Linked DNA regions of Homo sapiens. The protein of the gene in region 1 purifies or fractionates together with the protein of each later gene. This does not show direct contact. Each region holds a gene or a part of one and is shown on either strand. Other genes may lie near its edges.

Region 1 (3,756 bases):
CAAACACTGTAAAGGACCTCTGGGTTACTTGTTTATAAGCTAGTATTTCCTGAATCAATTTTTCTGATCCCTAGATATTTGGTAGGTGAAGTCATACCTATATATCCCCACACCCTAGAACAGCATCTCCAACTTATTTTTCCCTCCTTGTCTTTTAGTGGGAGCCACATCAGTATCCAAGAGGAGATCCAGAAGCCTCTCCAACCAGGTAGGGACAGTTATAGATTCCAGACCTCAGCTATGGCCTTTGTTACAGAGTACAAATGTTATATAGTACAAGTTTATTGTACACATCCCATTGAGTCTCTGAGCTTTAGAATTTTCTTGTAGAATTTAACAGTTTTTTCATGCCGTATTTACATATTATTGCTAGTATTTAGAATTTTCTTCTCCAAATGTATAACGTTTATTATTGCATTTTTTGTATCCACTAAGTGGAAAATCATGCATTAGATATTGTAGAAGTAGATACAACAATGAACAAGAACTGGTCCTGACCATGAGAGGAACTGATGATCCAATGGGGGAGATAGACCTGCACGTGTTTAATAAAAGGAAGTGGCTATTCCGGTTTCTTTTTGATGGGCAAGCATTTTGCAAGGCCTTGGGCTATGTGTGTGCAAGGCTAAGCCAGTTAGTTAATTGGGATTTTTTTAAAAAGGCACTTCACTGGGGGGAAAAGGAACATAGAGTTGGTTATTGTCCCCTTGCCTATAATAAAAACCTATTATTTTTAATTTTTTAACTGGGTTTGCGGTTAAATCTCACAGCCCAAGAGATTTGCCACTTCAGATGGATTCCATACACTTGCATTTAAGTATGCAAAAAAATTCCAATTATCCAGCAATTTAACCAAATTATTGGTAACTTTTCTAAAACAAAAAAAAATTGTTTCCCTTGTTTTGGCAGCAATTTCAGTTACAGTCCTTTACTTTCTACTCAAGAAAATAGTTTCAAAAAGTTGATGTTTGTTGCTAAAAGAACTATTTTTATGAATAAATATAAAACTAAGAAGTTATGGTGTCCCTTTTTTAAAAAATGACTCATCAAAAGAAATAACTTTTTCCTTTCTCTTGTAAGAGAAAAAAATTAATCTCTTTTAGAATTGCAAACATATTTCCTTGATGGAGAAAATCAATTCACATGGCATAGTCGTTATTTATCCAGTTCAAAAACCAGAGTAGAATTTACTACTCTGTCTCCATTTTTTCTCTCCCCACCCCCTTAACCCACATTGGATTCAGAAAGCTTCATTCTGCAATCAGCATTGTCCTTTATCTTTCCAGTAAAGATAGCCTTTTGGAGTCGAAGATGAGGAAAAGCCTGTATTTTATAGTCTTGGAAGTGTCTTCTTTTGCCAGGACAGAGAGAGGAGCTTCAGCAGTGAGAGCAACTGAAGGGGTTAATAGTGGAACTTGGCTGGGTGTCTGTTAAACTTTTTTCCCTGGCTCTGCCCTGGGTTTCCCCTTGAAGGGATTTCCCTCCGCCTCTGCAACAAGACCCTTTATAAAGCACAGACTTTCTATTTCACTCCGCGGTATCTGCATCGGGCCTCACTGGCTTCAGGAGCTGAATACCCTCCCAGGCACACACAGGTGGGACACAAATAAGGGTTTTGGAACCACTATTTTCTCATCACGACAGCAACTTAAAATGCCTGGGAAGATGGTCGTGATCCTTGGAGCCTCAAATATACTTTGGATAATGTTTGCAGCTTGTAAGTTATTTCCCTTCATCTGTTTCAAATGTTAGCATTCAATTTTAGCCCTGGTTTTGGCTTCAGTCAGTTTTGCGATAGTAGTGAAGTAAAGACACTAGGATTTTAAACAGTAGGAAAAGTTAATTTAGTCTAACTTTTAATATGCAATTGAGTTTTGCTATATACCATTGTACTGTCATAGTTAGAGCTGAAAATTGATGTTTTTGGTATCTTTTTTTCCAAAGGCAATTGAGTAATTTGGATTCTGTCTCTAGTCGGTCTGTCTCTTTAGTTTCCTATACTTGACAATGAGGTCAAACTTAGCAAATAACAAAACAGCTTTGATAAATGGGCATCAAGGTTGGAACTGAGAATTCTCTCTACTGAAGATGATTCCATAAACTTTTTTGGCAGTGACTTCGGTGCTTTTTGGCTACCTTGCAGTTAGTTTGAAGCAGCTTAGGAAAGAGATCAGTCTGATCATATTTTAGACATTATACAGAGAAGAAGGAGGAGAATACTAGACAAACTAGTGGTAAATTTGCTTCTGTCTTTTTTTGCTTTTGCAGCTCAAGCTTTTAAAATCGAGACCACCCCAGAATCTAGATATCTTGCTCAGATTGGTGACTCCGTCTCATTGACTTGCAGCACCACAGGCTGTGAGTCCCCATTTTTCTCTTGGAGAACCCAGATAGATAGTCCACTGAATGGGAAGGTGACGAATGAGGGGACCACATCTACGCTGACAATGAATCCTGTTAGTTTTGGGAACGAACACTCTTACCTGTGCACAGCAACTTGTGAATCTAGGAAATTGGAAAAAGGAATCCAGGTGGAGATCTACTGTGAGTGCTTTAGAAAATCTTTGTTTTTCTCTCAATTTTACTTTAAAATCACTTTTTAAAAATGATATTTTAAAAAAAGTTTTAAAATGGATATTCATGTACAGATTCTTGGCTAAAGAACATACAACATCAGGAAAGCTAGGGACAGCTAAGGCCAACATGAGAGAGAGCAGGAATCCAAATCTTGGCTTCTATTTCTACCTCTGCCACAAACACAGTGACCATGTATAAGACTCAACCTCTCTGGGCTCTGGTTTCCTTAGCTGTAAAATGATCATTTCTAAGTTTCTTTTTGTTTTATTAAAAAATATTTCCATTTGATTACATCCTTACATGTTTACTTGCTTATGTGTCTGATTGATTTATGAATTCCATCCTTCAGGGATTTTCTATTCATTTATTCTTATGCAATTTGATGCTTAAAATTAGTTTAAACATTAAGTAGATCTATAATTAGTAATATGTATTAGTATAAAAGTGTTCTTCTTAGACATAATTGTTAATATCTGGAAACATTTCAATCATTTGACTTTGGTGTTGACACATTTAGGATTTTTTTTTGGTTTTTTTGGTGCCATGAAGCCTTGGTGCTCAACCGCTCAACTTCAAAGATATTTATATAATGAACTAGATTTGCCTCATGAAAGTGAGTGGATGTCCCTAGTTTACCAGCCTGACAAAATGCATCCCACTCCATTCTCCATTCAGCAAACAAAGTTAGCAAGAGGAGTAAAAAACTAACCAGACATAAATCATTTGCCTTTTGTTACTGATGGCCTCTCTTTCTAAAAAACTGAACCCATTTACGGTCATGTCTTCATGAAGACCTCATTTGATTATAATTACTTTGGTTTCGTTTTATTGTACCGGAGCTCAACTTTTCCCAGTAACCTTAATTGATTCTGCAACAAACCGCATGTGTTGCTCAAGCTTCCCAAGAAACTGTGCTTGGCCGGCTGCTTTCAATTATGCTGGTTGTATGTGCATAGTTTATGTCTGTGCAGCCTCCCGAGCTCCTTGAAAGCTTCCCTTATGTAAATACAGGGAAAAGTAGCAAGTTCTTATGTTACCTGACATCGAACTGTGTGGATTAGAGGAACATTTCTTACAGAATATGAGGGACAGAAATTATTGCTGGAAAAATGAAAAATACCATGTTTCTTCACATAGGAAAGAATTTCCAGCTCCTTTGTCTTTTGCCCACTAGTACCA
Region 2 (3,756 bases), on another chromosome or scaffold:
GTATCTATTGAAGTTTTTTGTTTACTACTGAGATAATCTGGTTTCCAAATCACTTTTATCTCTGTTGAAAACATGAGTCATATTCCAATAAATGTAAACATAGGGCAGTTTCTTATAAACGCAAGGCATTATTGGTATGCTAATTGTATGTTCCACTTTCTGCATGCTTAATCATCACCTTCCAGCTCCAATAAATTGTACCTTAATTGCTGAGGATGTATTATAGTCTTTCTATTCTTAATATCTCAGTAGAAGAAACATTTTTAAAAGTGCTCTGATAATATTGCTTACGTTGTTAGATAAATGGCTAATTCTTTTCCAAACGTTAGACACAGCAGTTATAGTTGCACAACCTGGTATTAGCTTTAAGTGGTTTTCCCCACTCCTAGTCCTGTTAGCTATCTCTTATATGATTGAGTCTATCTTTTTATGGTGCTACCAGTCAGAGGTCATTTCTACAACCAAAGTCACCTTGTATTAGAGAATAATTAGTTGGCACAGAGTAATTCACATTTATCCTCACATTGTGCACTGAATATAAGATAGAGAAGTAGTTAACAGAAAAATACTGGGGATGAGTGCACAGTTTTCTCTTCTTTTGTAGAATGTTTTCAATACAACTGATAAAATTATTTTCACATGCTATAGGTAGCCCTAATGGAGAACCTTGTGGAAAGACTTGTTTGGAAGAGAGAGACAATCAGTGGTTGGGGGTCACACTTTCCAGACAGCCAGGAGAAAATGGATCCATCGTGGTAGGTATTGGAACTGGTCCACAGATCCATCGTGAAATCAGCTATCCTGGGTGCAGCTTTCACATCATTTGGTCTACTTTTATTTTATTCAGACTTGTGGGCATAGATGGAAAAATATATTTTACATAAAGAATGAAAATAAGCTCCCCACTGGTGGTTGCTATGGAGTGCCCCCTGATTTACGAACAGAACTGAGTAAAAGAATAGCTCCGTGTTATCAAGGTAAGGCATGATTTTGATACGAATTAGATAAAGATAAGTAAGTGAATACCTTTTAGTGTTTTAAATTTATGTTCAAGTTTAGATGTTCAGAGGAGAGGGAGATCTTCTAAGTAATTATGTTCTTTTTAACTACTCAATTTCTTTCTTTACCCAATTGCAATAGCATTATTTTTCATAAATGCACTTTGTGCTATAAAAATTCTACAATTTGAATAACTCTGAAATCTAGCTCTTTAACTACCCACTTTTGCATCAAATTTACTTTCAATTTGGTATAGGTGAGACTAGTACCCAGCAAATATAGGACATTTAAATTGTGAAATTATATTGGAAGTCTGATTAAAAAGAAAGACTTTAGGTTTCCTTTTTTACCTTTAGCTTCCAGGAGTAATTGGGAAGAATAATCAGTGTAAGCAAATCTTTCATTCGCACTCACTATCTCTTTTTCTAATTTACATGTTTTCCTTCAAGCAGCAAGAGATTCGTGTCTTGAGTTTGAAACATTTTTCTCATGGTAACTCTATGCTATAGGTAGCATCAGCAAGTACAGAGCTAGGACATAACAGAAGTGAGCAGAATTGGGGTGAATGTCAACAGAGCATGTCAGAGGATATCTGCAGCAAAACTAAAATCCAACAATGCGTCTTTAGGAGCTAAGAAACATATGAATGCAAATTCATAATTTTCTAACCACCCTCACTCAAAAAAAATCCCTCAGCACGCAAAGAAAAATTTTATTGGTTGGCAAAACTTTGGCCAAGTATTTGAGTTCAATTATGGGTGCTAATAAGACTTTGGTCTTTCTTCCTTGGAATGTGATGTCACAGAGCAGCTTATATTACATATATTCCTATTTTGCCTTCGGATACCCAAAAGATAAAAAAGTGAATATTGATTCTCAGTTGCAATAAAACTCAGTCTTGATTTCTGTATGTTTGCTGTCTTCTTTTTCCTAATAGTTTTCGGTTTATCTTTAAAATATTTTCATAGTAGAGTTTTTAGTTTTTCTCGGATATACATAGCCACATACTACAAAAATCTCAAGATGCCATAAACCTAACCCATCTACAATTGTAAAATACAGGATCAGGTAAGATATATTTTTTTAAAGGGATGAAAACTCCTGACCAGAAATGGTCATTATAAATGACTTACCAATTTATTGAAGTTTTCTGCTTAGCAAAGCCAAAAGGAAGCTGTGGTTCCAATTCTTATTTTCATAGAAGTTTACTTATATCATTTTTTGGAAGAAGCAAAGCTTTGCCCCCTTAGAAAGTTCCAAAAGCATTCATTCATGGGACTTTGTAATAATAGACCTTTATGTCCATGCAGATCTTGATTCAGTCTATATTTCAGTTGGGCAAAATCTAAGAAAGGACACTCTCTTCAATTAATGGTGTTAGCAATAGCAAAGACATGGAATCAACCTAAATGCACATCAATGTTGGATTGGATAAAGAAACTGTGATACATACACACTGTAGAATACTACACAGGCATAAAAAATAACGAGATTATGTCCTTTGCAGCAACTTATATGGAGCTGGAGGCCAATAACCTAAGCGAACTAACACAGGAACAGAAAACCAAATACCACATGTTCTCACTTATAAGTGGGAGCTAAACATTGAGTACATATGGACACAAGGGACACAAAGTAGGCACAAACACTAGGGCCTACCTGGTGGTAGACGGTGGGAGCAGAGAGAGGATTGAAAAACTACCTATCAGGTACTATGCCTATTACCTGCATGGGGAAATAATCTGTACATCAAACCCCTACAACACGCAATTTATCTATGCAACAAACTTGCACATGAACCCTGAACCTGAAAGTTTTTTTTTAAATGCCTTTGGGAAAATTGGCTATCTGCGTGCAAAAGAATGAAATTGAACGCTTATCTTAGCAAATATACCAAAGTCAACTAAAATGGATTAAAGACTTAAACACGATACCTGAAACCATAAAATTTCTAGTGGAAAACATAAGAGAAAAGCTACTTGACATTAGTCTAGGCAATGAGTTTTTGGAAATTACACCAAAAGCTCAAACAACAAAAGCAAAAATAAACAAATGAGACTATATTAGAAAGCTCCTGCATAGCAAGGGAGATAATCAACAGAGTGAAGAGACAGTCTGCAGAATGGGAAATAATATTCGCATAAGTCCTATATATTTAAAATGTATAAGGATCTCACCAACTCGATAGCAAAAAACCAAATAACTGATTAAAAATTAGTCAAGAGACCAAATGGCTTTCTTTCCAAAGAAGGCATCAAAATGGCCAATAAGTAGATGAAAAGGTGCTTAACATCACCAATCATCAAGGAAATGCAAATTACAAACCACTATGAAATATCACTTCACACCTATTAGAATTGTCATTATCAAAAAGGCAAGAGATAACAAGTGTTGGCGAAGGTGTGAAGAAAAGGGAACCCTTGCACACTGTTGGCTGGAATGTAAATTGGTACAGCCATTATAGAAAACAGTAGAGAAGTTACTCAAATTAAAAATAAAACTACCATATGGTCCAGCAATCCCTCTTCTGGGTATATATCCAAAGGAAATGAAATCAGTACCACATAAAGAGATCTGCGTTTTTATGTTCATTGCAGCAGCATTCACAATAGCCAAGTTACAGAAACAAGCTTAGTGTCCATTGACAGATGAATGAATGGATAAGGAATTGTGTGAGGTGTATATATACACACATATATACATAAACATATACAATGGAGTATTATTCAGCCTTTAAAAAAGGAAATTCTGACTTTT

Evidence for each region. Proteins that work in one complex are often made in the same cells at the same time.
Region 2: the proteins of VCAM1 (region 1) and ITGA4 purify together in Homo sapiens (affinity purification with mass spectrometry; 2 studies listed by BioGRID). This does not show direct contact.

The regions. Positions count from the first base shown.
Region 1 is NC_000001.11:100,718,208-100,721,963, forward strand, and holds the start of VCAM1 (vascular cell adhesion protein 1 isoform a precursor), read left to right. Parts: upstream 1-1,534; 5' UTR 1,535-1,653; coding exon 1,654-1,717; intron 1,718-2,268; coding exon 2,269-2,544; intron 2,545-3,756. UniProt on the Homo sapiens protein: Cell adhesion glycoprotein predominantly expressed on the surface of endothelial cells that plays an important role in immune surveillance and inflammation.
Region 2 is NC_000002.12:181,474,312-181,478,067, forward strand, and holds part of ITGA4 (integrin alpha-4 isoform 1 preproprotein), read left to right. Parts: intron 1-648; coding exon 649-755; intron 756-847; coding exon 848-977; intron 978-1,508; coding exon of another isoform or gene 1,509-1,540; exon of another isoform or gene 1,541-1,909; intron 1,910-3,756. UniProt on the Homo sapiens protein: Integrins alpha-4/beta-1 (VLA-4) and alpha-4/beta-7 are receptors for fibronectin. They recognize one or more domains within the alternatively spliced CS-1 and CS-5 regions of fibronectin. They are also receptors for VCAM1.